3 separate regions of the Homo sapiens genome follow, and regions 1 and 2 are each linked to region 3. Evidence: fine-mapped expression QTL. A gene starts in region 3. Each other region holds a variant in brackets. All regions are shown on one strand. Distances are between the middles of the regions.

Region 1 (9,885 bases), 320 kb before region 3:
AATCTATAGTCTTTGGTTATGGCAGCCCAAACGGACTAAGACACGAAGCTTACCAAATGGCAGAGCCATGTGCTTCCCGAGATCAGCGATGCTGAGGAGAAGGCTGATCTACCCCAGTTCAGGAAGAGGGACTTAGGGCTTTCCTTGGCAATGTTCTGCTCCTGGGGGGTCCTTGGTACTCAAATCTGAACTCTGTTCCTCTGCCTATCAGTGAATGAAAACATCTCCTGGCTTCTCCACTTCCATCATTTTTTTGTTTCCAGCTCTTTCTCTCCTCCCCGTTTTAGCATACAGTAGTCCCCTCTTATTCACAGGGGATATGTTCCAAGATCCCCAGCGGATGCCTGAAGCCTCAGATAGTACCCATCCCTATGTATATTGTTTTTTCCTACAGACTACATGCCTATGATAAAGTTTAATTTATATATTAGGCACAGTAAGCAATTAACAATAAGTAATAATAAATAGGACAATTATAACAATGTGCCAGCATCACTACTCTTGCAAGTTGGGGCCAATGTTAAGTACTACAAGGGTTTCTTGAACACAAACACGGTGATACCATGACAGTAGCTCTGACAACCAAGATGGCTAAGTGACTAACCAGCAGGTAGAGCCTGGATGCGCTGGACAAAGGGAGGATTCACGTTGCAGACGGGATCAAGCTTACAGCGAGAGATCTCATCACGCTGCCCAGAATGGTGCACAGCTTAAAACTCATGGATTATCCCCTCTCCCTCTCCCCACGGTCTCCCTCTCCCTCTCCCTCTCCCCACGGTCTCCCTCTCCCTCTCTTTCCACGGTCTCCCTCTGATGCTGAGCCGAAGCTGGATGGTACTGCTGCCATCTCGGCTCACTGCAACCTCCCTGCCTGATTCTCCTGCCTCAGCTTGCGGAGTGCCTGTGATTGCAGGCACGCGCCGCCACGCCTGACTGGTTTTCGTATTTTTTTGGTGGTGACGGGGATTCGCTGTGTTGGCCGGGCTGGTCTCCAGCTCCTAACCGCGAGTGATCCGCCAGCCTCGGCCTCCCGAGGTGCCAGGATTGCAGACGGAGTCTCGTTCACTCAATGCTCAATGGTGCCCAGGCTGGAGTGCAGTGGCGTGATCTCGGCCCGCTACAACCTCCACCTCCCAGCAGCCTGCCTTGGCCTCCCAAAGTGCCGAGATTGCAGCCTCTGCCCGGCCCCCACCCCGTCTGGGAAGTGAGGAGCGTCTCCGCCTGGCCGCCCATTGTCTGGGATGTGAGGAGCCCCTCTGCCTGGCTGCCCAGTCTGGAAAGTGAGGAGCGTCTCTGCCCGGCGGCCATCCCATCTAGGAAGTGAGGAGCGCCTCTTCCCGGCCGCCATCACATCTGGGAAGTGAGGAGCGTCTCTGCCCGGCCGCCCATCGTCTGAGATGTGGGGAGCACCTCTGCCCTGCCGCCCCGTCCGGGATGTGAGGAGCATCTCTGCCCGGATGCCCCGTCTGAGAAGTGAGGAGTCCCTCCGCCCGGCAGCCGCCCCGTCTGAGAAGTGAGGAGCGTCTCCGCCTGGCAGCCACCTCGTCCAGGAGGGAGGTGGGGGGGGTCAGCCCCCCGCCCGGCCAGCCGCCCCGTCCGGCAGGTGAGGGGCGCCTCTGCCCGGCCGCCCCTACTGGGAACTGAGGAGCCCCTCTGCCCGGCCAGCCGCTCCGTCCGGGAGGGAGGTGAGGGGGTCAGCCCCCCACCCGGCCAGCCGCCCCGTCCGGGAGGGAGGTGGGGGGGTCAGCCCCTCGCCCGGCCAACCGCCCTGTCTGGGAGGGAGGGAGGTGGGGGGGTCAGCCCCCCGCCCGGCCAGCTGCCCTGTCCGGGAGGTGAGGGGCGCCTCTGCCCGGCCGCCCCTACTGGGAAGTGAGGAGCCCCTCTGCCCGGCCAGCCACCCCGTCCAGGAGGGAGGTGGGGGGGGTCAGCCCCCGTCCGGCCAGCCGCCCCGTCGGGAGGTGAGGGGCGCCTCTGCCCGGCCGCGCCTACTGGGAAGTGAGGAGCCCTCTGCCCGGCCACCACCCCGTCTGGGAGGTGTACCCAACAGCTCATTGAGAACAGGCCATGATGACAATGGCGGTTTTGTAGAATAGAAAGAGGGGAAAGGTGGGGAAAAGATTGAGAAATCGGATGGTTGCCGTGTCTGTGTAGAAAGAGGTAGACGTGGGAGACTTTTCATTTTGTTCTGTACTGAGAAAAATTCTTCTGCCTTGGGATCCTGTTGATCGGTGACCTTACCCCCAACCCTGTGCTCTCTGAAACATGTGCTGTATCCACTCAGGGTTGAATGGATTAAGGGTGGTGCAAGATGTGCTTTGTTAAACAGATGCTTGAAGGCAGCATGCTCCTTAAGAGTCATCACCACTCCCTAATCTCAAGTACCCAGGGACACAAACACTGCGGAAGGCCGCAGGGTCCTCTGCCTAGGAAAACCAGAGACCTTTGTTCACTTGTTTATCTGCTGACCTTCCCTCCACTATTGTCCTGTGACCCTGCCAAATCCCCTTCTGCGAGAAACACCCAAGAATGATCAATAAAAAAAAAATAATAATAATAATAATAAAATTAAATTAAATTAAAAAAAAAAACTCATGGATTATTTCGGCCGGGCGCGGTGGCTCACGCCTGTAATCCCAGCACTTTGGGAGGCCGAGGTGGGCGGATCACAAGGTCAGGAGATTGCGACCATCCTGGCTAACATGGTGAAACCCCGTCTCTACTAAAAATACAAAAAATTAGCCAGGCATGGTGGCAGGCATCTGTAGTCCCAGCTACTCAGGAGGCTGAGGCAGGAGAATGGTGTGAACCCGGGAGGCGGAGCTTGCAGTGAGCTGAGATCGTGCCACTACACTCCAGCCTGGGCGACACAGCAAGACTCCGTCTCAAAACAAAACAAAACAAAAGACTCATGGATTATTTCTAGAATTTCACATTTAATATATATTTCTTTTCTTTTCTTTAAGACGAGGTCTCACTCCATTGCCCAGGCTGGAGGGCAGTGGTACCATCAGAGCTCACTGCAGCCTCCATCTCCTGGGCATAAGCCATCCTCCCACCTAAGCCCCCCAAGCAGCTGAGATGACAAGCGCATGCCACCACACCCGGCTAATTTTCGTATTTTTTGCAGAGACGAGGTTTTGCCATGTTACCCAGGCCACTCTTGAACTCTTGGACTCAAGGGATCCACTTACCTCAACCTTCCAAAGTGCTGGAATTACAGGCATGAGCCACCATGCTTGGCTCATTTAATGTTTTCAAACTGCAGTTGATCATGGGTAACCGAAACCTGAGAGGGTGAAACTGTGGATGAGGGGGAACTATGTACATTAAATACATTCCTTCAGGTACATGCGCGAAGAACTGATTGTATGCTAGGCACACAATGCTGCTGGAAATAGAAATATTTCAACCACTTTTCTCAAGGTGTTTACAGACTAATGAGAAATTAAATTTAGTTTTTTGTTTGTTTTTGTTTTTGTTTTTTTGAGACAAGTTCTCACTTTGTCTCTGGCTGGAGTACAGTGGCACAATCTCAGCTCACTGCAGCCTCTGCCTCCCAGGTTCAAGGAATTCTCCTGCCTCAGCCTCCCAAGTAGCTGGGATTACAGGCGCCCGCCAACATGCCTGGGTAATTTTTGTATTTTTAGTAGAGATGGGGTTTCGCCATGTTGGCCAGGCTGGTCACAAACTCCTGACCTCAGGTGATCCACCACCTTAGCCTTCCAAAGTGCTGGGATTACAGGTGTGAGCCACCACGCCCGGTCCAGAAATAAATTTCTTTTTTTTTTTTTGAGACGGAGTCTCGCTCTGTTGCCCAGGCTGGAGTGCAGTGGCACAATCTCAGCTCACTGCAAGCTCCTCCTCCCGGGTTCACGCCATTCTCCTGCCTCAGCCTCCCGAGTAGCTGGGACTACAGGCGCCCGCCACCACGCCCGGCTAATTTTTTTGTATTTTTAGTAGAGACAGGGTTTCACCATTTTAGCCAGGATGGTCTCGATCTCCTGACCTAGTGATCCGCCCGCCTCGGCCTCCCAGAGTGCTGGGAATACAGGCATGAGCTACCGCGCCCGGCCAATAAATTTCTAAATGAAGGAAATTTGGAAATGAAATATAAGTTGTACAAATGGACAAGTGGCATAATATTATGTTGTACAAAGGGACTTTCATTATTCCTGATGAAAACTCATGCCAGAGCTTACATTTGTTCCCTCCAGAAATCTCAGTAAAATTTT[A/T]AAAAAAAGAAACATTTATAAATGCTTATGGACAAAAGGAATGGAAGAGAAGATGATATCAGACAAAAGACATCAATGAAATTTTGGAAGATGTAAAATGGAGGGGCCCGTGCCACCTGGAAAGTAAGCTGGTTTGTGCTGCGGGACCCAGGAGTGGTCAGGAATCGGAGGCTGAGCAGCAGTGTTGATGATAGTCTTTAAAAAGAATAGATAAGAACCCCAGATCTCCTTTCCCAGCCCACGCAGCCATGCAACTACACCACCTCCACCACTAAGGGAAGTTTATTAACTCCAAAGGAAGACTTTGGAGCCTCAATATCAAAACATAGCTAGACACCAGATATTGTTCCAAAAAAGGGAATTTTGTGAACATTTGGGTACTGAGATGCTATTCCCAGATCCTTCCCCTGCAGGGCTTTTACCTTCCCCAGGCAGGAGAAAGGAGGAAAACTCTCTGGGAAAACTGATCCATCGGCCGGGCGCGGTGGCTCACGCCTGTAATCCCAGCACTTTGGGAGATCAAGGCGGGTGGATCATGAGGTCAGGAGCTCGAGACCATCCTTGCTAACACGGTGAAACCCTGCCTCTACTAAAAATATGAAAAATTAGCCGGGCATGGTGGTGGGCGCCTGTGGTCCCAGCTACTGGGAGGCTGAGGCAGGAGAATGGCGTGAACTCGGGAGGCAGAGCTTGCAGTGAGCCGAGATTGCGCCACTGCACTCCAGCCTGGGTGACAGAGCGAGACTCCATCTCAAAAAATAATAATAATAAATAAATAAAACTGATCCACCCAAGGGGGAAGAAAATCTACAGATCTAACATCTGGGGACCTGACCTAATGACTCTTCATGACACTCACCAGAAGAATAGCTTCAAACATGCACATGGAGCTGCGATGAATAGACAGCCAAAGACTACTAGAGCTCTGAGGGAAGTCCGCCCCGCAAAAAAAGACCAAAACATGGCTGGGCGCAGTGGCTCACACCTGTAATCCCAGCAATTTGGGAGGCCAAGGCAGGCAGATCACCAGAGGTAAGGAGTTCAACACCAGCCTGGCCAATGTGGTGAAACCCCGTCTCTACTAAAACTACAAAAATTAGGCTGGCATGGTGGCAGACGCCTGTAATCCCAGCTACTCGGGAGGCTGATGCAGGAGAATCGCTTGAATCAGGAGGTAGAGGTTACAGTGAGCCAAGATCGCACCACTGCACTCCAGCCTGGGTGACAGAGAGAGACTCTGCCTCAAAAACAACAACAACAACAACAACAAGAAAACGCCCATCCAAAGTACATCACATGGAATTTCAGAACACCAAGAATGAAAGCAATGCTTCCAAAGAAAGAAAATTACAGTTACAAAGCCTAGGACAGAATCAGTCTTAGTGCTAACAATACTGGGAAATTGAAGGTGGTATAATAATGTCTTCAAAAGTCTGTGGAAACATTTTTGCAATCTAGACTTTTATACCCAGCCACACAATCTACCTATCAAACTATCAAATATACAGGTGGAATAAAAATATCCAAGTTCTCAAAAAATTGTGAGAAGACTTGGTTGATCAAAACAATGGAATAAAACAGACAAAAGAATAGGAAACAGAGCATTCAGGAAACAGGGATGCCAATACTGGAGAGAGAAAAAGGGTTATCCTACAATGATGGTATAGAGAAGATACAGGATTGGAGCAAGCCATATGATTCCATATATAAAATTCTAGAAAATGCAACTAGTCTATAATAATAGATAGTAGACCAGTGGTTGCCTGGACATGGGGGTGAAGGGAGGAATAGATTATAAGGGAGCATGAGGAAACTTTTGAGTGTGCTGGAAATGTCCATTATTTTAATTATATTAATGGATTCATGGGTGTACATGTGTCAAAACTCATAAAATTGTTCACTTTAAATATATGCATTTTATTGCACCTTAAATCAGAATCAAGTTGTCAGAATCAATAAAAAATAAAAAACAACAATAAAAGGCCAACCCTGATAAATGAGTCAGAGAAGGTCCTGAAGAGAGGGTTCTCATGCTTGTATGCCTCATAAAACACTATCACAAATGTTGCAAAAAACACAACCTAGTGCAACAGCCATCCCAACCTTACACAAAAAATACTTCTGCAAGGACATCTGCTCGGCAATTGCCTGTCCAACCTCAGACTGGTGCCACCCTTGTTACTGATCTTTGTAGCAAGGATAATTATTTCAAAACAATTATGTAATCTTTCTCTTTTTTTTTTTTTTTTTTTTTTTGAGATGGAGTCTCCCTCTGTCACCAGGCTGGAGTGCAGTGGCACGATCTTGGCTCACTGCAAACTCCACCTCCTGGGTTAAAGTGATTCTCCTGCCTCAGCCTCCCCAAGTAGCTGGGACTACAGGTGCACACCACCACACCCAGCTAATTTTTTTTGAATTTTCAGTAGAGACAAGGTTTCACCATGTTAGCTAGGCTGGTCTCAAACTCTTGACCTCAGGAGATCCGCCCACCTCGGCCTCCCAAAGTGCTGGGATTACAGGCGTGAGCCACTGCACCCCATCTCTTCCTTATTTTTTCCTGTAAACAATGTGTCTTCCTGTCTGAATATGCACATAGTTTACCATGGCATGCATATTTCCACTGCAATGCTCTATTCCCAAACAATACCTTTTTCTTTCGGAGAACTTCTCTCTCTTTGTTTTTTAGGTTGACACTTTTGTTTTTCTTTTTCTTTTTTTGAGACAGAGTCTCACTCCATCACCAAGGCTAGAGTGCGGTGGCATGATGTCAGCTCACTGCAACCTCCGCCTCCTGGGTTCAAGTGATTCTCATCCCTCAGCCTCCCGAGTAGCTGGGATTACAAACACCCCCCACCATGCCCAGCTAATTTTTGTATTTTTAGTAGAGACGGGGTTTCGCCATGTTGGCCAGGCTGGTCTCAAACTCCTGACCTCAAGTGATCCACCTGCCTCGGCCCCCCAAAATGCTGGGATTACAGGCGTGAGCCACTGCACCCGGCGGTTGACACATTTTATACCAATAAAGCAGTAAAAAAAAAAAAAAAAAAAATTAGGAAAACAAGCGAATTGGTGAAGTGGAAGATTGGTCAGAGGTAACTATCCACAAAGAAGCCATAGAAATAAAAAGAAGCAAGATACAGAAGAAATAATAAAAAGCAGATATGACATGCTTGAAAGGTCTACCGTGTTTTTTTGGAGTCCCAAAATGAGAAGAAAGAATTCAATAGCTCTAACAGAACCTAAAGGAAGAGAAATGATATCACCAAAGTGCTGGAAGACAAAATAACTGCTAAAACAAATTTTCTACCCAGAGAAAGTATCCTTTATTAATGAAAATAAGAAAAAGACATTTTCAGATTAGCGGAAGCTGAGAGAGTTCTCCAAGAGCAGGCCCCCCCAACTCAGAGAAATTCCATAGGGTGTTTTTTGGGCTGAAGATCAATGACCTCCACATGGAAGCTCAGAGACGCAGCAAAGAATGAAGAACTAAGACGTTCAAGGAGTGTTCAGAGAATAAGCGATATATTTTTCTGACTAGAACCAAAGATCTATAAAGGAAAGCCGGAGGGTATAAGGCTGAAAATATGTGAACCGAGATCAACAAGGGTCCTAAATCCCAGGCAGGAGGAAGAAGAAAGGGGAGCATATCTGGAGAAATATTAAAGTTAAGAGAGGCCAAGCATGGTGGTTTATGCTTATAATCCCAGCAACTGGAGAGGCTGAGGCGGGAAGATCACGTCAACCCAGAAGTTTAAGGCTACAGTGAGTTATTATGACACCACTGCACTCCAGCCTGGGTGACAGAATGAGACCCCATCTCCTTAAAAAAGAGAGAGAGAGAGAGAGAGAGAGAGAGAGAGAGAGAGAGAAAGCTCACCAGCCAAGGACAGAGAGGTTACAATGAAGAGAAGTCAGGTGATATTGTTAAATAATGCCTAATCCAGGCAGATGGCAAGAAAACAAGGCCACTGGGTTCAAGAAGTAATAGGAAACTTTGAGAAGGTGATATTCATGAAATGATGGGATGAGCAAAGAATTCAAGAATGAGTGGTGGCCAGGCATGGTGGCTCACGTCTGTAATCCCAGCACTTTGGGAGGCTGAGGCGGGGGGATCACCTGAGGTCAGGAATTCGAGAATAGCCTGGCCAACATGGTAAAACCCCATCTCTACTAAAAATACAAAAATTATCTAGTTATGGTGGGAGGCTGAGGCAGGAGAATCGCTTGAACCCAGGAGTCGGAGGTTACAGTGAGCCAAGATTGCACCACTGCACTCCAGCCTGGGCGACAGAGCAAGACTCTGTCTCAAAAAAAAAAAAAAAACACCAAGAGTGAGTGGTAAAGGAAGGAGAAGCAGTAGGTGCTTCCACTTAGAAGTCCAACAAAGACCAAACTCTACTTCTACAAAATAGGACCCTTGGTCACTCCCCTCCCCAGCCTGCCTCTTCCCCAGTCTTCCTCAGCTCCACAAACAGCCTTACTACCTAGTAACTCAAGCCAAAATATAGAAGTAACCACCAATTCTTCTCTTTTCTTTATTCCCCAAGCCCAATCAATCAGTAATTCCTGTTGCCTCCAATCCAATGTGTGGTCCATGTGTGACCATTCCCATTGCTCCTGACTGAGTCTAAGTCCAAGGCCACCGTCATCTGTTCCTTGGAACACTGCAATAGCCTCTGATGGGGTAGGGGTGAGGGGATGCCTCCATTCTTGCTCCTTTGAATCCAATCTCCCTGGAGAGATCATTCAGGTAGGACAAAAATCAGACCATGTCATTTCCCTGCTTAGAATCCTTCAGTGGTTCCCCATTGTGGCCAGAATGAAATTTCAATTGCTGAGCACCATGTTTAAGGCCCCTGGTGATACCGCCCTGGTGTGGCTTCTCTAACCTCCTTTCCTATCACTCTCCCACCTTCGTCAGCTCTGCGCTCACCTGCTCTCTCCCTGGTCCTGCACACCAAACCTGTTCCTGCCTCAAAGGCTTTGCCCTGGAGATTCTTCCCCCTTGCAAAGCTGGGTCTTGCAAAGCTGGGTCCTTCCCATCATTCAGTTCAAAATCACCTCCTGGGATAGATCTTCCCAGACCAACCAATGTGGAGTACCTTTCCTGCACCGGAGATGTTCCACCATTACATCACTATGTTGTATTTTACTTACACACTGATCATCTCAAATTATCTTGTGTATTCACTAATTTGTTTCTTTTCTGCACCTGCCCCGTGCCACGCTGAGTGTTCATGTGGCGCCCGGCCTTGAGTGTTACTTTCACTAGCACAGCACCCATTTCTCTCTTGTGAATTGCTGAGACTCTAGTGCCCATTTCAGGACTCTGTCTTCAGACTTAAGGATAAGAGGAATAGACACTAGGGTGGGGGGAATGTATAGGCTATTAATATGAGATGAAAATGAAAAGATTGCCAGGTAACACTGCAGTACAGTTGAAGTTAGATAGCACGAACTCTGTATTTTCCAAGACTTTCTCCACCTACTCTTGACAGCCTGGGTGAGAATAGAAAGGTTGACAACAGAGACAACATAAATTTTGGGCAGAGCCAAAGGACAAAGGACTGTATCACTGAAACGGCCAAGAAAGCAGACTGGAATGGGGTACCCCTAAGAGATCTGATGGATTTTGATAGATCAATACATAGAG
Region 2 (9,885 bases), 120 kb after region 3:
CACCCACAACCGCTCTAGAGAAGCGTCGCCTCCGCCACCCCAGACCCCCTCCCAACCACCCCCCGCCACTGCAGACGCTGCGTGGACTGTCAGGCTCACATATCCAGGAGCAGGCGCCTGGCTGCCCGGGTCAGCCAGAGCTCTAAACTTACTAGCTGTGTGGCCTTAGGCACGCACTTTCTATGTGCCTCGGTTTCCTCATCTGTACGGTGGTGATGGACACGGTGCCCACCATGTGGGGTGGGTGAAGATGGGGGGCCTTCATCATCTGCTGCTGTTCACCTGCTCTCCCTGGGGCCTCACACCCTCTCAGAGGGAGGAGTAAACAAACAGTGAAGATAGAGGAAGTTGAATGGTGTCCAGGGTCACGAAGAAGACAGCAGGGAATGAGGGGATCGGAGTGTGCCGGGGGACAGGTACAATTTTAAATATGTTCCTTCCCAAGGAAAGCCTCAGCGGAGGCCTGGAGTCAGGGAGGAAGGGCAGGAGCTGTCTTGTGGGGACCATTCAGGTGAAGGGAACGGCGAGGGCCAAAGGCGCAGAGCCACTGTCTGTAACGGGGGAGCTTGGGGACAGTGACACACCCGAGGCCACCCGGCTAGGACGGGGCAGGGCTGGGGAGAGAGGGCTGGTGGGAGTCTATGGGGCTCACGCATATGGGCGTAAAGTAGAGGAGGATCTGGGTGACCTGTGCTTTGAACAGGCTTCAGTGCAGGTTGATGGGGTGCCCTGGGGCATCTCCCAATAGCAGCCCTTCAAAGCTGATAGTGGGGGGCATCCTCCCAGGTTGGCAGCGGCTGCAGGCGTGGTTGGTGTTTGCCCACCAATGACGGTTCCCTCTCCCGGCTGCCCCCAGCTGGGCTGTGCACACTGGTTGTGGGGTCAGGACCACTGCACCTACCCCAGCACTCAGCTGGTTCAGGGAGACCAGTGCAGTGACCACGAGGGGCCAGCGATCCATGGGCTCTCAGGGAGGGGACCTCTGTGCCTCACGTTCCCCACTCCCTATAGAGTCCAACCTGAGGGGGTCCACCCTTGTGTGGATAGCAGCCTGCGGTCACGGAGGCTTTTGGGGCCGCGCCTGTGACCTTCCCAGAGCCAGCTGGGGAGCAGTCCTGGGGCCGCCCCTTCCAGAACTCCATACCCTGGGGGGGGGTGGTCAGAGTGCAGGAGGAGGGCCAGCCCTGGGGGAAGGGGCTGCAGAGGGGCAGGGAAGGGCGCCAGCTTGAATGGAGGGAATGGCAGCCCATCCCCTGGGTGTGGCCGCGTCATGTTGATCTACGCTGTTATTTCTCACTCATTAAAGATGGTCTTTGATTCTTCACTGAGGTGTCCTGGGGCCCATGGATGTCAATGTTGATGTTGATAGAAATAGCCACTGGCGGGGCAGGCTGCCCGGAGAGGGATTTTCAGCTCTCACTTGGGGACTGCCCACATGAGCACGAGTTCTGGGCTGGGAGCACGTGTGTGCTCCGTGCGGTGAACCTGCATGTGCGTTCCGTCCCTCCAGATGTGCCCTGGCGGCCCCTCCTCCTACTCCCAGTCGCCTCCCTCATCCCCACGTCAGCTTTCTTCAGCCTCCTGTCTATTTTTAGCTCCCTTCCCCAGGGCCTGGCTGACACGGATGCAGCCTCTCTGCTTGGAGTTGCGTCTCCATGAATATTTTATGCTGGGGGCTGCCGCACCCGCTCCGGGCAGCTGCCAGCACTTCCCGGTCTCGGTCTCGTATTAGAAGAGGCCAACTCAGCGCGTAGAGGCAGGCCTCCCCGTGGCAGTGCCCTCTGACCTTGGGCCGAAGGGGGCTGGAGAAGTGGCTTGTGGGGAGGGACAGCAGGACGCAGGCGGCAGCAGACAGATGTGGGAAGGCTTTTCAGCCTGCAGGAGGGTCAGAGCCGTGTGTCTGCTGAAGCGGAGGACGTCCCTGGCACCTCAGGTGGGGGCTGTACTTGCCTCTGATTCTTGCAGGCGTGGGCATTGTAGCCTCTACAGGCCCAGGGAGTTGGGGCTGAGAACTTGTGGGTCCCAGCCTGGGCCTGAGGAGGAGGTGTAGACAGGGCGGGGTGAGGGGCTCGCTGAGGCCCCTGACCAGGGAGAAGCCTGTAGCCTGTTCCATGGCTGTCAGGGCTGAGTGAGCGCCGTGACCCCACTGCTTCCTGGGCACACTGGGGAGGGGATGTGTCCCCAGATTAGCCGAGGCTCCAACTGTGCAACCACATTATGCAGGGCAGGGTCTTTGCAAAGCAGGCTTCCAAACTGGAGGGAGCCCATCCCAGAGGGTCTCTCTGGTGCTCATGAACACACATCTCCCGAGGTGGCCAGCCCAGGACTCCGAGCTTCAGTCTTTAGCCACCGAAATGTTTTCTGGATGGAAGTGGGAGGCAGTAATGAAGGCAGGTGCGGCCATCTTTTTTTTTTTTTTTTTTTTTTTTTGAGACGGAGCCTCACTCTGTCGCCCAACCTGGAGTGCAATGGCTGGATCTCGGCTCACTGCAACCGCTGCCTCCCGGGTTCAAACGATTCTCCTGCCTCAGCCTCCCGAGTAGCTGGGATTACAGGCGCATGCCACCATTCCTTATTAATTTTTGTATTTTTAGTAGAAATGGGGTTTCACCATGTTGGCCAGGCTGGTCTCGTGATCCACCTGCCTCGGCCTCCCAAAGTGCTAGGATTACAGGCGTGAGCTACCGCGCCTGGCCTAGCTGTGGCCATCTTTACCTTGCCTTTCAGAGCTGCCTCATGCATAGCCAGGGGAGTTCCAAGAACTCAGGGAAAACGCACCCTGTTGAGCTTTGTCCGCTCTGACGTGCCCCGACCTAGAAGAGGCCCTGAGACCCTTGGGCTCCTTCAGGTTGAGGGAGCCCTACCAGGCCGGGGGCCATTCTCAGCAGGTTTGTTTTCTGGTTAGGAAGCCAGGGCAGCTGGATGCAGAGGCTGCTGCCTGTCTCCTGGGTGGGCAAGGGACTGGAGGGGCAGGGGAGGCTTCCTCTTGGGTGGTGCCTGGGTACAGGTCATTGAAGCCGGAGGCTTCAGGGAACGCCAACCCCTCTGCGAGCTGGTGTGTCTGCTCACAGATGCTTCCCATCCCCAGACAGGAGGCGGGCACCAGGCAGGGAGTCACTCGCCAGGGGTCGCACGGCCAGCAGGCCCATCTGTGACTTCACTGACTGGGAAAGGGGGCCGCTCACTGCTGTCATCGATGCCACTGTGCTTTCTCCCAGCCAGGCCCTACTGTGGGGTCCTGGGAGGAGCCCTGCCTGAGAACCCTTCTGTGCAAGAACCTAAACCCTGGGAGTCCCAACGCGCTGCCCACCTGCACTGCGCCGCCCACCCACACCGCGCTCAGCCCAGGGCCTTTGCTTCAGCCCCAGATGATCTCAGGACCAGTGCTGGGCAGGTGACTGAACCTCCACAGGCCACTGTGGAGTGTGGGGGTTGGGGCACATTTTAGTGGAAAGTTTTCCACTCCAGTTTGATTCTTTTGCCTCTGCTGGGGCCTTATGTGAGGCGTGGCCTCAGCACAGACCCACACAACTTTCAGAAGGCTCTGGAACATGGTGCCCACCTCGCTTCTGCTGCTGCCCTATGACCTCCTTCTCCTGGCCTCAGCTGGTTCACCTGCATGAGTGCAGGGGCCGGGTAAGCCCCGCGCCAGCCGAGAGGACAGCGTGGCATGGGCTGGAGCGTCCGGAAGGAGGGCACTGTTTGACCTGCTGTTCAGCTGGAGGGGCGGGATGGGCCCCAGGGCTTAAGTCAGCTGAAAGGCCCTCTGCAGCCTTCTGGAAGTTGTCTGCCATGCAGTGCTGAGGGCCACAGCTTTGTGACGCACTGATGTGGGGGCTGCAGACAGAGCAGGCTGGAGATGCCTCTTGGCTGTGGCTGTCTTGAGCCGTCGCCAGGCTGTTACC[C/T]CAAGTTCCCTCTCCGTGCCTTCTCAGTGATGCTGTAATTGGAAGGTCCCTCGCCCCTTTGCACTTAGGAGGAAGCATGGGGCAAGCTTTCCATGATGGTGCCTGCTGCTCCCCACCCCCAGGACCTGCCTGACCCCCAGGCACGGTGTGCAGAGGGGCCTGGGGTCCTCGCATGGGCCCCGTTCCTCTCGAAGAAGCCTCAGGAGCAGAGGTGGCCATTCCTGACCGTGTCCAGGCCGGACCAGGACAAGAAGAGAGGTCCGGTCCCAGGATGTAGGACAGAGAAAGAGGTCCCCACGTGGGGCCTTTGTCACGGGGCAGGGCCCTAGGGTCTCTGCTGCCTCGACATCCTAGACACCCCGTTGCCACAGGCTCCTGCTGGCAGGGAGGGGCCGCACCTACTCCCAGAGAATTTCACTAGCAAAAGAGTGGGCGGAAGCACTGTGTGGTGGCCGCGCGCAGCCTCTGCACTCGCCCTGGGATGGGCACCGCTGCGCCCGTGTGCGGGCTCTTACACTGGCTTCCTTTGTTTGTTTGGCCAAGATTGGACTTTTGGAATAATTTTTTAATTGTTGACTAATTTAGGAAATTCAGCTGTTACTGGAGTGCAGAAGGTTGACGGTGTGTTCCTGGAAGGGCTTGGTGAACCGCCTGCCGCGTTTGGCCATTAGTGAGGGAAGCCCTGCCCCCCTCCTGCCCCCACCTTGCTGCCAGCCCACAGGCGTGAGTCATGGACTGGAATATTCATGAGGCTCAGAATCCAGTGTCGTGCTCTCTGTTCCTTTTGCCTGCATTTAGCGGGAGTCAGTCTTGTGATGGGAAAATACCTGCATCCTGAAGCTGCCCCTGTCGCCTCATTGGTTAGCGCTTAGGAACATCCGGTGGCCAGTGAGTCCCATGTGCCTAGAACCCGAGCATGGGTGCTGAGAAGGAGGTTGGCGCAGATGAGAGCATGTAGCCCTCCCCTCCAGCCTGGCTCTCGCCTTCCCTCTGCCTGAGCCCAGACTCTTTCTCCAGCCACCTTTCATGTTTCTGCTCTGCATATATCTCTGAAAGATCCACTGTGTCCAGACAGCCACACACTGGCCCTTCTGAGCGGCACTGGTAGGTAGCTCTTCTGATGCCACTGTGGCCTAACCGGCTGCGGGGGGTTAAAAACCCACCTGGGCACAGTGAGCTGCTCATGTTCTCCCCCTGGAGGTTTACAGAAGGCTCTGCTCAGAGCCAGGCCTGGGGGGCATACAACAGAGTGTGGGATGGAGCCTTGGGGCCTCTCTGTCCCCACTGCTGTCAGATTTGTGACACGGACAGAGTGAGCACTGCCAGGAGGGGGGCTGTACCAGGAGAGGCCCGTGGGTGGGATTTCCAGAGGATTCAGTGAACCGAGGGAGCATCCCGGCTAGACCCAGGGTGCTGCGGAAGGTGAGCGAGAGATCTGTCAGGGAGGCCTGGAAAGGTTGTTGGGCCCATGTGAGGTCCTGGCCATGGGACTTGGAGTTTTTCAGCAGGGCGAGTTCATGCCTGGAGTATCCTGGGGCTGGAGGCCGCCCACTTGGCTCGGCGCTCTCAGCAAGGGGTGTGGAGTGTCCTGGCAAAGGCTCTTTGCGGCCAGACACACATCTTGAGCCCTGCAAGCAAAGGTGCAGGAAGAAACAGGCCCTGTGCCCCACACGGTGGTAGAAAGGATGCAGAGCCCTCCCCACCTGTGTGTGCAGGATCAGAAGCAAGTCCCCAGCATGGCCACAGAGCTGGCCCATCTCCAGGGGGATGGCCAAGCCTAGGTGTGCTGGACACTCTCATCTCATCTTTGTCACTGTTGCAGGCTCCTGTTCAGACCCTCCATGGTCTGAGCCCCCTGGAATTGATTGGGGACAGATGATGCCAGTGTTCATTGAGCAGAAGTACTGGTTTTGAATTGTTAACATAAAGACCATCCCTATTTAGAATTAAGCCTTTTTGATCTTCATTTGTTTGATCATTCATTCATTCATTCATTCATCCATCCAGCAAACACCTCCTGTGCCCCTGCTATGTCCAGGCATGGTGCTGGCCTCCAGCAGGACAGGAAGGGCTCCACAGGGCATAGCACAGAGTGGGCACACGCACAGCAGAGGTGTGCCATGAGCACGCGGCTTCTGGCCCAGGCCTAGCCCACAGTGGGCACTCAGCAGGTGACAGCTATGATCATTATTGGTGTTGTAGGGTGGGGACCGCCATGTCCACACTCCGGCACAAGAGCTGTGAGCCGAGCGTCCCGGGACCACGGCACTCCGTGCCTGCAGGAGGGGCTCCTGAGAGGCCACCACCCAGGCCCAAGTCCCAATGCCTTTTCTCCCCTTTGTGGTGACGATCTCCCTGCCTCCGCCAGCAGCCTCCCGTTGGCCTTTACGCCTCCTTTCTTGGCCCCACTTGGGGGCAGTTCTTTCGGAGTCTGAGCCGGTGCTGCTGGGTGAGGGGAGCCCCTGGTGAGGGTGTTTATGACTCTCCACAATGATCTCATTATTTGAGACTTCCGGCTGCTTTCTGCTGGAGGCTGGTGCAGTCCTGGGTGGGTGTGGAGGAGGAGGTAATTAACCCAGGCCTGCAGCTGCTGGGAGAGGCCACAGCGGATGGCGGAGAGGCCACAGCGGATGGCGGACAGGCTCCGCTAAGGCAAGGTCCTCAGGTGGAGCAAGACCCTGGGGGCACAGGTGCTTGTGAGGCTGGTGGTCCTGGTGCTAAGCTCATCATTGCTGGCTTCTCCATGCACAAGGCCCCTCGCCCGGCCGTGCTGAGTGTCCTCAATAATGAGATGTTTTCATTGCTTTTGTGATTATCCCAAGACCCCTCTTGTCTCCTGTTATAACAGGGAGAGGGCATGCTACGTGGCTTCCTAATTAAGAAGGTCTGTGTCCCTCAGGCTTACAGGAAGTTGTTATATCACCACTGGAAACCCTTTTTACGCCATTCATTAATTACAAAAAGGACAAGCTATTGATTTTACCGAGGGTGGAACTTAGTCACTCGTCCTCCATACCATGTTCCAAATGTGTGTTCTCCAAGCACAGAAAATGCAAAGTGGAAAACATTTGGTTTGCAGCACTTGGCTCTGAAAGCCACAGGCTTCCCCTCCAGTGGAAGAGAGCCCAGAAGACAGCAGTGGCAGGAAGCACTAAGTGGAGGGAGGAAAAAGATGCAGACCCCAGGCCCAGGCAGCCACTAGGCTGCAGGGGAGCCAGGGGCTTGGTGCTGAGTGCCAGGCGGTGCTCCCTGAGCACCAGGGAGGGAGCGTACTGTCAACCTGCTACCTTGGGACCCTCCCCACCCCTGCGTCCCCATGTGTGGGTGTGACATCCTAAAGGGCCCGCTGCGTTAAGGTGACCCCGGGCCATCTGGCCCTCCTTTGGGGCAGCCACACACCAGCAGGACAGTCCTTGGAGCAGTTCCCAGGCTGCACTTGGCCTCAGGTATTTCTGAGGACAGCAGGACCACCACACAGACACACACACATGCACCAGGGACCGCAGACACATGTGCACACACACGTAGGAGCTCACGTGCACCGGCACCATAGGAAGCACTTTGCCATGTCACTTTGTTGAGTTCCTGTTTCCAGGTGAACAAACCTGGCCCTGGGCCACACAGCTGGGCCCGTGGGACTCAGAGTCCTGCTCCTGGCCATGCTGCCCCATCCCTTCCATCAGGCAGGTGCCCGGGATACATGGGGGTCATGTGCCCTGAGCTGCCCTTTGCCACCTCATCCTTTCTCTCTGGCATATTCTTGGGGAGCCCCAGAGGCTCGGAGGAGCCTGCCTGAGGCCACAGGTGGGTGCCCGGCAGCTGGCACCACTGGCCAGTGCCCCAGAGGCTCCAGTCCTTCCCCCACCAGCAGCCTCGGGGACTTGAGAGAGACATCTGTCTTCCCGCAGAGCGTTCTTTCGTCCTCCACCCACCCCCAACCCTCCATTAAAAACAGCAACAGCCAACAGCGTATGCATTTATTTACTTTGCTGGGTGGAGGGAGATGGCTGCGAGGAGGCAGCAGCCGGGCCGTGGGTGGGGCCTTGTGCTGGAGACATCTGTCTTGCTCTGTCAGCTTCTCACCCAGCGGGACAGGGTGGCCCCTTTGTCACTTGGGTAGGAGAACTATTTAGCAAAGCCATGACCTGGGGAGGCTGGCTGCCCACCAGCAGTGAGCCCGTAACCTACCATGGGACAGACACCGCCCCGCGGCCCTTTGTTCCACCTCCCCCTGGGTGGTGAGCCTGGGTCCTCAGGCACCTGGGACATCCCTGCCCTTGACTGCCATCTTCATAAACCTTCACCCTGGAAGGGCGCCCCTGGGCACTCAGGGAGGAAGGCCGCCCGCACCTTGGGAGGGCAGCGCTTATGGGCGGGCACTCCACGCAGTGACGTTGAGGCTCCTGGGCTGGTCTGGACTCTGTCTCAGAGCCTGGAACATCCAGCAGATACTACCATCCCGGGAGACGGGAAGAGCAGTGGGGCCCTCACAGGCTCTCAGGCTCCCACACATCCATCCATCATCAGACAGCATTTGCTTTGTCTGAGGGCAGAGCCTGGCTGATGAGTTTGCTGCAAATATTAAAGAGCAGGGCCACATCAGAGCCGCCTTGGGGCCCGTTGCTGGGCACCAGATTCTCCCTCAGCCTGGAGCCGACCCTGAGAATGACCTGCACCTGGGCTCGTGCCCGCCTCAGGCTGTGTATTAACTGACCTCGAGAGAAGCAGTCACAGCCCTCGGCCTGTGGCATTGGGAATGCTCGATGGCCTGGTGGCCGCTGGGGTGGGAGCAGCTGTAGTGGTTTGGGATAATATGGCTGAGGGCAGGGCAGGGCCCCCGCCTGGGGGAGGCCAAGCTCAGCAAGTGCTCCTAGGCTGTGCCGAGGGCCGGGGTGAGGTGAGGGGAGGCAGGGAAGCCCCTGACCCTGGTTCATCGTGGACACGCTGCAGGTCCATCGCCTTCCTCACTTCCCATGGACGAGTCCCACCCCTAAAAGTCCCTCGGCATAGGACGACCTGGAGGGCAGCCCCCATGCCCAGGTTTAAATGGAGGCTCTCCCCTTACCCGCTGTGTCACTTTGGGCAAGTTACTCAGCCTGTCTGTGCTTCACTTCCTCATTGGTAAAAGTGGACAATCATTTCTGTGCTGCTTGGTGGGGTTGTTGGGAAGACCCTGATGTGCACAGCCTGCCGCGCCCTAAGCATGGGTTGCGCAGGGAATATCCCCTTATCGCTGTAGTCCCTGCCCCACGTGCACAGCCCATGTGGGGGCAAAGGGGTGGGAGGGCTCTCGTCTGCAGTGCCTTCTGCAGACCCAGAGTTGGGTGGTCCTCCCACGCCCTCGGCGGCTGGAGGGCTGTGGTCACATCTCTGGTAAAGATGCCGAGAGCTGTAGGAAGTTACTCCTATTCCACTCCCAGGTGGTCATGGAGGCCAGATCGTTAGGGGACTCGAGGGCTCCGCTCCACTGCTGCGTGTGGCTGGCAGAGGTGAGGACCGGGCTGTATGAAGCCCTGGAGGTTTTCTCGCTCTTGGGCGGAGATCTCCCTGCCGTTCGGGCCGTGCCGCGTGCGTGGGGCCTGGGGCCCATCACACACCTATGAACTGGACCAGAAGGAGCATGGTCCTGAGTTAGCTCTTAGCGCCTCTTGGCGGGGAGTGGGGAAAATCGCGCCTGTGCACAGCCCAGACGGCTCCCTCAGCTCTGCCCGCAGCCCACCGCTTGTAAAGCCAAGTCCCCGTCTCTTTGGGGCCTGGAGATCATTGGTGCCTAGGGAAGAAAGGAGGGGCTGGTTTTCCTAGATCTAGGTCTAGTTAGTTTTTTGCTTTTCTAGCTTTTTAATTATAGAAAAGGTCAAATATACGCAAAAGTAAAGAGAAGAAAGAATTCCTGTGTAGTTATTAGCTCAGGGCCAGTCTTATGCGTTGACAGCCCTGACTACTCCCCCACCACAGAGAGCTCTCAACTGTGGAGGTTTTC
Region 3 (9,885 bases):
ATGAATTAATATCTGCTGTTGATATAATAATTATCTCTATGAAGTCATTCATAAAATATTTATTGAGTACCTACTATGTGCTAGGCACTCTTCTTGGAGCTTGGGATACAGCAGTGAATAAAACAGTAAAAAATTCCTGCTCTATACCTTCTAGTTGGGGGAGAGGCAATAAACATATGGGTGCAATACGTATTAAATGGTGTTAGGTGCTAACGAGAAAAATAAACCAGGGAGGAAAACTGGGAGTACTGGAGAAGAGTGGGGGGACTGCAATGGGCCTAATAGAGAATGGCTGGGGAAGGCCTTATTTAGAAGGTGATGTTTGCCTGAGTAAAGGGTGGCCCAGGCAGAGGAAGGAGCAAGCGTGAAGCCTCTGAGATATGTCCGGCACATTCGAAGACTGTCCGGGAGCTCAGGGTGGCTGGAGCTAAGTGAGCCAGGGGAGAGAGCTCATGAGGTCAGAAGCGTGGATGTGGCTGTGGGGCAGAACCCTGAATGCCACAGTGAGGACTGTTCAGATCCCAGATTCATTGTGAAGGCAGAGCTTGCAGGATGTGCTGATGGTTTGGATGAGGGGTGTGAGGGAGAGAGAGAGTCACGGGTGACTCCTTGGGTCTTGGCTTGACCAACTGGAGGGACGGGACTGCAATTTCCTGGGATGGCCATTTCTGAGGGGCATCAGGACAAGGTGAGTGTCGGGTACCTGCCATGCAACCAAAGTGAGATTTGGTGCAGACAAGGGATACATGGATCTGGAATTTAGGGGAGAGCTCTGAGCTGGCCAGAGATATGTATTATACAGATGGGACTTAAAGTGATGAGACAGGCTGGGTGCAGTGGCTCATGCCTGTAATCCCAGGACTTTGGGAGGCCAAGGCGGACAGATCACCTGAGATCGCGAGTTCAAGACCAGCCTGGCCAACATGGTGAAACCCTGTCTCTACTAAAAATAAAAAAATTAGCTGAGTGTGGTGGTGGGGGCCTGTAATTCCAGCTACTCTGGAGGCTGGAGCACGACAATCTCTTGAACCCGGGTGGCAGAGGTTGCAGTGAGCCGAGATCGCGCCACTGCACTCCAGCCTGGGCAGCAGAGCGAGACTTTGTCTCAAAAAAATAAAAATAACAATAAATTTAGAGTGATGAGACAGCCAGGCATGGTGGCTCATGCCTGTAATCCCAGCACTTTGGTTTGGGAGGCCAGGATGGGTGGATCGCTTGAGCCCAGGAGTTCGAGACCAGCCTGACCAGACTCTATAAAGAAATACAAAAAATAGCCGGGCATGGTGGTGTGTGCCTGTGGTCTCAGCTACTCAGGAGGCTGATGTGGGAGGATCATGTGAGCCCAGGAGGTCGAGGCTGCAGTGAGTTGTGATTGCACCACTGTGCTCCAGCCTGGGTGACAGAATGAAACCCTGTCTGAAGGAAAAAAAAAAAAAAGTGATGAGACAGAATGAGACCTCAAGAGTTCAAGCACTGCTTGGGGCTTGTCTAAAGTTCTGACAGGAGGCAGGGAGGCAGTGCCAGCAGAGCAGGCTGAGCAGTGGCCAGCGAGGGAGGAAGACGGACGTGAGGGAGGAGCGCTTCCAGGATAGGGAGGTCACATCTGCTCAATGCCGTTGAGAGGTCAAGGAAAATGACTTCTGACAACAGATTATCGGATTTAGCAACTTGGAAGGAATTAGTGACCTTGATAGATTGACTGGTAGAATCAAAAACCAAACTGGAACAGGTTCAAAGGAGGATGGGAGGTGAGGGGAGAGGGTGTGTGTGTAAGCAGCTCTTTTGAGATGTTTTGCTGAAAGCAGGGATAGAAATGGCCCATAGCTTGAGGAGCAAGTAGAAAATAGCCTAACACGAGAAGGTGAGACTGTGGAAGGTGCAAAATCAGTGTAAATCCATTAGCACTATGGCCAAAATCATTCACAAGGTTTTTGCTGAGGAATTGGGCGCCCCCATTGCCATCCTTAAAAACAGGGCAACATCATAAGTAGTAATCTGGAGCACTATTTTCTTTCTACAGTGCAGAATGGGTACATGATAATCTCTGGGCTGAGCTGTTATCTTTTCTGGGTCCCTCTACCACCTTCGGGGTAGTGATGTGAGCAGGAGGGACAGATGCTGTCTCAGGTGGAAGGGTAGCCACACCCTTTCCCAAAAGTATAGGAACTGTTCCAGATCACTTTTTGGCCTCACTCTGGAGGGCCCAGGCTATTTCATTCTAAACCACTTGGCCCATCCTTGTCTAAGATTCCCTCTGGTTCAGTGTGTGGCTGGAATCTGGCTTTTTGTGTCCCTGATTTGTGTCCCAAGCAGCATTTGAACTTTTTTTTTTTTTAAGAGACAGAGTCTATGTTGCCCAGGCTGGAGTGCAGTGGCTGTTTACAGGAGCCATCAGAGGGCACTGCAGCCTCAAACTCCTAGGTTCAGGGGATCCTCTTGCCTCAGCCTCCTGGGATTATGGGTGCAAGCCCCCATGCCAGGCAGATTTAGAAGATTTTGAACAATGAAGTGTCTGTAATGCTCAGAGGAGCAAGCACACCTATACAGGGAGCATGGGGTCTTAGTAAATTCTTGCTGCACTCATAGCTGGGGGAAGAGCAGTATAGAGAAACAGAAGGTTTGAGGAGGGAAGAGGAAGAAAGGCCCTACCTCAGCCTGCCAAGTAGTCCTCACAACGGTCAGGAAAGTATTTATCACCCCCATATCATAGGTAAAGAAACTGCCAGGCTGGGAACAGTGATGCACACCTGTAATCATAGCACTTTGAGAGGCTAAGGCAGGTGGATCACTTGAGCCCAGGAGTTCAAGACCAGCTTGGGCAATGTGGTGAGGCTCCTTCTATACAGAAAAGTACAAAAATTAGCTGAGCATGGTGGCACATGCCTGTGGCTCCAGCTACTCAGGAGGCTGAGGTGGGAGGGCTGCTTGAGCTCTGGAGGCAGAAGCTGCAGTGAGCAGGGATTGTGCCACTGTACTCCAGCCTGGGTGACAGAGCCAAGACTCTGTCTCAAAAGATTTAAAAAAAAAAAAAAAAAAAAAAAGGAAACTACCTTGCCTGAGGCTCTAAATCTAGTTACTGCTTCCAACCATTTCAGGATTCAATTGGGAAGAGGTGGTGTTTGAACAGGCTTGGGGGCCCTTGATGCTTGCATCAACTTAATTCTCACTAAAAAACAAAAGTCTGCGTCCGGACGAGGTGGCTCAGGCCTGTAATCCCAGCACTTTGGGAGGCTGGGGTGGGTGGATCACCTGAGGTCAGGAGTTCAAGACCAGCTTGGCCAACATGGTGAAACCCTATCTGTGAGAGGTGACAGCATGCTGGCAGTCCTCACAGCTCTCGCTCGCTCTCAGCGCCTCCTCTGCCTGGGCTCCCACTTTGGCGGCACTTGAGGAGCCCTTCAGCCTGCCGCTGCACTGTGGGAGCCCCTTTCTGGGCTGGCCAAGGCCGGACCCGGCTCCCTCAGCTTGCGGTGTGGTGTGGAGGGAGAGTCGTGGGCGGAACCGGAGCTGCGAGCGGTGCTTGCGGGCCAGGGCGAGTTCCAGGTGGGCGTGGGCTCGGCGGGCCTCGCACTCGGAGCCGCGGCCGTCCCCGCCGGCCCCGGGCAGTGAGGGGCTTAGCACCTGGGTCAGCAGCTGCTGTGCTCAATTTCTCGCAGGGCCTTAGCTGCCTTCCCCCGGGGCAGGGCTCGGGACCCGCAGCCCGCCATGCCTGAGCCTCCCCCCACTCCATGGGCTCCTGTGCGGCCCGAGCCTCCCCAATGAGCACCGCCCCCTGCTCCACGGCACCCAGTGCCATCGACCACCCAAGGGCTGAGGAGTGTGGGCACACAGTGCGGGACTAGCAGGCAGCTCCACCTGCAGCCCCAGTGCGGGACCCACTGGGTGAAGCCAGCTGGGCTCCTGAGTCTGGTGGGGACATGGAGAACCTTTATGTCTAGCTAAGGGATTGTAAATACACCAATCGGCACTCTGTATCTAGCTCAAGGTTTGTAAACACACCAATCAGCACCCTGTGTCTAGCTCAGGGTTTGTGAATGCACCAATCAACACTCTGTATCTAACTACGCTGGTGGGGACTTGGAGAACCTTTGTGTCGACACTCTATCTAGCTAATCTGGTGGGGACATGGAGAACCTTTGTGTCTAGCTCAGGGATTGTAAACACACCAATCAGCACCCTGTCAAAACAGACCACTCTGCTCTACCAATCAGCAGGATGTGGGTAGGGCTAGATGAGAGAATAAAAGCAGGCTGCCCGAGCCAGCAGTGGCAACCCACTCTGGTCCCCTTCCACGCTGTAGGAGTGTTGTTCTTTCGCTCTTTGGGTCCACACTGCCTTTATGAGCCGTTAACATTCACTGTGAAGGTCTGCAGCTTCACTCCTGAGCCAGGGAGACCACGAACCCACCAGAAGGAAGAAACTCCAGATGCGCCACCTTAAGAGCTGTAACACTCACCACGAGGGTCCGCGGCTTCATTCTTGAAGTCGGTGAGACCAAGAACCCACCAATTCTGGACACATCTGTACTAAAAATACAAAAATAAGCCAAACGTGGTGGTGCATGCCTATGGTCCCAGCTACTCAGTGTGGTTGAGGCAGGAGAATTGCTTGAAACTGGATGGCAGAGGTTACAGTGAGCTATCACACCACTGCATTCCAGCCTGGGCGACAGAACGAGACTCTATATCAAAAAAAGAAAACAGGCCAGGCGTGGTGGCTCACGCCTGTAATCCCACCACTTTGGGAGGCAGAGGCGGGCAGATCACAAGGTCAGGAGATCAAGACCATCCTGGCTAACACAGTGAAACCCCGTCTCTACTAAAAATACAAAAAATTAGCCGGGCGTGGTGGCAGGCGCCTGTAGTCCCAGCTACTTGGGAGGCTGAGGCAGGAGAATGGCGTGAACCTGGGAGGCGGAGCTTGCAGTGAGCTGAGATTGCACCACTGCACTCCAGCCTGGGCAACAGAGCAAGACTCCGTCTCAAAAAAAAAAAAAAAAAAAGAAAACAGAAAAACAAAATTCTTAGTATAAAAGTCTTGAAATCACAGAGTTCTGACTTTGACTGCCCCTGCTTCTGGGAGCTACAGATCATGCTGTGGGCTGCCTCCACGGTCTGGTAACTCAAGGGTGACCGGGGTGAGGCACAGTTCCTTCAGAGCTACCTAGCTGAGTGTAAATGGGTTGTTCAAATTGCACTAGGGAGCCGGAGTTGCGTGGGTTTTAATTTAAAGATGTAAGTACAAATCTATGTGCATTGTAGAAAATTCGGAAAAGGTCCAACTGCCTAGCAAGTAAAAAGCTGTCATTCCAGCACGTGGGGGGTGACCGCTTCTCCCTTCTTGGGTGTTTTTTGGTGGATTTTTTTTGGTGACCCCGACTGGCCTAGACTCCATTCAAGGGCACATCTTGTGCAGTAAAACACGCATGTTTCAGGGCTCCTCACTGCAACACGTGCACCTCCAGGCTGGCGCTCAGCGCTCCCAGTAAAAGCTGCAGGCGGCGGTGTAGATAGTCGCCGGCCTTTCCTCCTCCCCACCTCGTGACGCTTTGTGCTGCGGAAGCAAAGGCCCGTTCCATTCCCCGTGTCTTCCCAGCAGCCGCCACCAATGCTCCTTTCTAGGAAACAGCCTTCCATTCTCTCTTAGGGCCGATCTTAGCGAGAGCCGCGATGCGGGCGACTGGTGCCGGGGTGGGTTGGGGGCGGGGGTGGGAATCAGGCCCCACTGCCAGGAGCCCGGGCCGCGCCTTCCGCTCTGACCTCATCCGGCCGCCCAGGCACTGGGCGCGGCAGCGAATCGGCGGCGCGGGCGGCCGGGAACGCCCAGCACAAATATTTACCGCCGCGCGGAGAGTGAGGGCCCAAGTCCGCCCTGCTCCGCCACTTAGGCCGCCCCAGACGCTTCCCTCGGGGCTGCCACCGGGTCGGGCGCGGCTGCCGCGGCTAGCGGGCCTTCCCCGCACCGGCGCGGCCCAACCGCCACCGAACCTTCTGGAAGCGGCGGCTGCCTGGGCCCCCACGCCGCCAGAATCGTACGCCCGCGCGAGCTCTCTGCAGCCTTGGCGGCCTGGGAGGCGGGGCTCGGGGTGGGGCCGGCGCGGGGGCGGGGTCGGCGCGGGGAGGCCGCGTTCGATTGCCCCCGGCGCGCAGGCCCCGCCTCACCAGCCCCATCGCTCCACCTCTGCCCTCCCCCTTTATGGCGCGGCCCGGGCTCATTCATTCCGCGCCGGGCCTGCCAGACACCTGCGCCCTTCTGCAGCCGCCCGCCGCATCCGCCGCCGCAGCCCCCAGCATGTCGGGCCCAGACGTCGAGACGCCGTCCGCCATCCAGATCTGCCGGTAAGAGAGGGCCCGCGCGCAGCCTGCAGCGGCCAGGCGCGCCGGTCACCGCCCCAGGCCTGCCCCGCTTGGCTCTGTGGTCCCCACCCGCCGAGGCCGCCCCCGCCCGCCGATTCCCCGCACGGCCTTCCGCGCCGCCGCCCCGGACGCCCGCCCGGCCGGGATGCGACTCGCGATGCCGCACAAGCCGGGCGGCCCCCGCCCGCCTCCAGCCGGCTCCTCCTGGCCGCATCTCCAGGGCGGCGGCCGCGCCACGGGCCGTTTGGGCGAGAAAGCCAGGCAGGGACGGGGCGGGCGGAGGTCAATGCACAGCTCCAGAGCCCGGCGACCGGCGCCCGTGGGCCGCCCCGCCTCGGGCCTCGCCCGAGCATCCCGGAGCCTCAGCCCCGTGGTCCTGCTTAGCCTCCTCGAGGATTCGGGATCATTACCTCGGCGGTTGTGCTGCGCTAACCAAAGCCCCCAGAGGTGGAGGGGAGGTGCCCAGAGCCGCGCGAGCCCCTCGGTGGGTGCCCCTGTGGGAGGAGGTTGCAGAGCTACCGTCTTCAGTGCACTGCTTCGGTTTGGGGGAGGGCAGGTGTTGAAAGGAAGAACAGATAATACTGTCTACCTCTAACAGTTTACTATGAAGAAAAGGGAATCAGTGGTCTGTTGGGCCTGAAAGCATCTTACACAATAGAGGCAAAGGGTTGTCCTTCTAGAGCACCCCCTCTTCTTCCACCAGGTACTGAGTAGATAGATGCAGGCCCCCAGAGGAAGCTGGAGGCTGGAGATCATGAACAAGCTCATTTCCCATAGGAGGTGGGGAGGGCAGCCTGAAGGTTACTCTGCAGTTCTCTTCGGCAGAATCGGAAGCAGCAGGCTGGCATTTGTGCATGAGCTAAGTGAGGACAAGGAGTCTAGGTTTTCAGCCACTGCACACAGGCTCTGTGGCCTGCGACCGGTCCTATCCTGCTTGATGAACTACCAGGAGTGAGAGCTGCTTTCTGTTTTGGTAGTGGGTTCCTCACATTTGGGGGTTGGGCATCACAGACTGACCTTGGGCTCAAGCCAAGTCCAATAGAAGCAAGTTACTTTCCTGTAGATGTTGACATCTCCAGGAAGGCTGGGCATATAGCAAGTCCTGGGTCTATGGCGATTCTTGACTCTCAGTCTCATCTTCTGGCCTGGTCGAGGGCCTCTCCTTACCTCAAGGTCGGTTTTGACTTTTCCAGAGGGGGAACGTCTTTGGGGGAGCCCTGCCCCTTTGACTTTGGCTCTGTGGCTGTTCTGGTCCCATCGACTCTGGAGGTGGGGAAAGCGGGGCAAAAAAAAAAAAGGAAATAACTGGAGACAGACAGCCTGCATCAGGTTCCTGAATCAGCTCTGCTGAGTATTGGCTGGGAAACTTGGGCTCCATGGTTTGCAAAGAGCTTATACCTGTCTCATCCCACTTGGTTTGCCCAATTCCCTGGGAGGTTGATGGTCGGTAGTGCCACCCTTACCTGTGTGGAGGAGGAAATGGCAGTTTTGGGAGTTGAGTAACTGTGTAAGGTCATCCTGCTCCAGGAGATCCAGGGACAGCCCCTGCCCAAGTCTTCTGACTCCAGATCCAGTATTCTTCCCACCCCTCTCCTGAATAAAGGAAACCTTGATTTAAATCTTCCCGTGGAAGGCTGGCCTTTTATTTACTTCTTCAGGGTGGTGAATAGCCAATTTATACATGTTGTCTTTTTTCACCCAGCTTCTAACAGTTACTAGATTTTTTGTTTTTTGAGACAGAGTCTCACTCTGTCACCCGGGCTGGAGTGCAGTGGCCCGATCTCAGCTCACTGCAACCCCTGCCTCCTGGGCTCAAGTGATTCTTGGGCCTCAGCCTCCCGAGTAGCTGGGACTACAAGAGTGCGCCACCACGCCTGGCTAATTTTTGTGTTTTTAGTAGAGATGGGGTTTCTCCATGTTGGCCAGGCTGGTCTCGAACTCCTGACCTCAGGTGATCTGTGATCTGCCCTCCTCGGCCTCCCAAAGTGCTGGGATTACAGGTGTGAACCACCGCACCCAGCTGGAAAAAGTTCTTGTGCCTCAGCCTCCTGAGTAGCTGGGACTACAGGCGTGCGCCACCACGCCCAGCTAATTTTTGTATTTTTAGTAGAGATGGGGTTTCATCATGTTGGCCAGGCTGGTCTTGAACTCCTGACCTCAGGTGATCCTCCCGCCTCAGCCTCTCAAAGTGCTGGGATTACAGGCGTGAGCCACTGCTCCTAGCCTAGTTACTAGATTTTTGTATAGCTTTAGACACTTCCATACAGTAAGTGTGTGCTTTTTGTTTGTTTGTTTGTTTGTTTTTGAGACAGTCTCGCTCTGTCACCCAGACTGGAATGCAATGGCACGATCTCAGCTCACTGCAACCTCTGCCTCCTGGGTTCAAGCGATTCTTCCACCTCAGCCTCCTGAGTTGCTGGGATTATAGGTACCCGCCATCATGTCTGGCTAATTTTTGTATTTTTAGTAGAGACGGGGTTTCACCATGTTGGCCAGGCTGGTCTTGAACTCCTGACCTCAGGTGATCTGCCCGCCTCGGCCTCCCAAAGTGCTGGGATTACAGGCGTGAGCCACTGCGCCTGGCCCGTGTGTGTGCTTTTTCTTACCCACTGTAAACCAAGTCTGCTATCTCAGGTTCACAATTGCATATTGTTTCTTTATTTTTTGGAGATGGAGTCTCACTCTGTCACCCAGGCTGGAGTGCGGTGACACACTCTCGGCTAACTGCAACCTCTGCCTCCTTTGTTCAAGTGATTCTCCTGTCTCAGCCTCCCGAGTAGCTGGGACTACAGGCGTGCACCACCGTGCCCAGCTAATTTTTGTATTTTTAGTAGAGATGGGGTTTCACCATGTTGGCCAGGCTAGTCTCGAACTCCTGACCTTAGATGATCTGCCCGCCTCGGCCTCCCAAAGTGCTGAGAATTACAGGCATGAGCCACCGTGCCTGGCCAATTGCATATTGTTTCTAAGTGGCTGCCTTGGCCAGACGACTGGTGAGGAGGATGCTTGGCTGCCCCTGCTCATGAGTGAGCAGGTGAGCCTCAGGTGCAGAGCGTGACTGCCAAAGGAGTAGGCGGGAGTGGTGGTAGGGGTAGGCCTGTGAAGAGAAGGCTGTGGTTCCATCGGCTTGACTCAGAGAAACCGCAGGACACTGGAGAGTGACTGTACTAGGATGGGGAGCCCTTTAAGGACATCTGAGCTGACACCCCAAGTTGAAAGAGGAGCCTCCTGGCCTAGCACAGCCAAGCCCATGAATTTAACAATGCTTTACTGGACACTGCCAAGAAGCATAGCACCAGGAGGGAAACGTGTGGAAAATGTGGCCCCTGCCTTAAGGGGTCACAGTCTAGCAGGGGTGAGAACGTCCAAATTCCCACCATCTTAGACACAATGGTCACATGTTCTCAGTTCAGACATTGTTGAAGGGATAGGGGCTTTTTTTTCTTTCTTTTTTTTTTTTTTTTGAGAGGGAGTCTTGCCCTGTCCCCCAGGCTAGATGCCATCTCGGCTCACTGCAACCTCTGCCTTC

Direction of the effects. Alleles are on the strand shown, and positions count from the first base shown. SD is a standard deviation of normalised expression in the study named.
For the expression in spinal cord of the gene that starts at base 5,828 in region 3, allele A in region 1 goes with a higher level than allele T (large effect, 0.83 SD a copy in GTEx).
For the expression in fibroblasts of the gene that starts at base 5,828 in region 3, C is the high allele of the variant in region 2 and T is the other (small effect, 0.29 SD a copy in GTEx).

What was found. PIP is the estimated chance that this variant, and not a neighbour inherited with it, causes the effect. A credible set is the group of variants that fine-mapping cannot tell apart.
Region 1: its variant is the best candidate, but not a certain one, in a credible set for the expression of ACOT7 in spinal cord (GTEx, PIP 0.70).
Region 2: its variant is the best candidate, but not a certain one, in a credible set for the expression of ACOT7 in fibroblasts (GTEx, PIP 0.71).

Annotation. Positions count from the first base shown.
Region 1 is chr1:6,707,177-6,717,061 of GRCh38, reverse strand. No RefSeq gene overlaps it. Among named protein-coding and RNA genes, the nearest start is that of DNAJC11, 10 kb to the right of the region's middle. RefSeq lists an enhancer at 1,952-2,773. The variant A/T (reference allele first, on the strand shown) is at 4,233.
Region 2 is chr1:6,268,262-6,278,146 of GRCh38, reverse strand. All of the region lies in intron 8 of ACOT7 (acyl-CoA thioesterase 7), which reads left to right. Among named protein-coding and RNA genes, the nearest start is that of GPR153, 12 kb to the right of the region's middle. RefSeq lists enhancers at 2,553-3,143, 7,286-7,876, 7,877-8,468 and a silencer at 4,358-4,524. The variant C/T (reference allele first, on the strand shown) is at 3,906.
Region 3 is chr1:6,389,710-6,399,594 of GRCh38, reverse strand. ACOT7 (acyl-CoA thioesterase 7) reads left to right here and starts at 5,828. Exons shown (of 9, transcript NM_007274.4): 1 at 5,828-6,338. The coding sequence starts at 6,196. RefSeq lists enhancers at 3,667-4,191, 4,944-5,454, 5,455-5,967, 5,968-6,479 and silencers at 5,708-6,157, 6,428-6,517.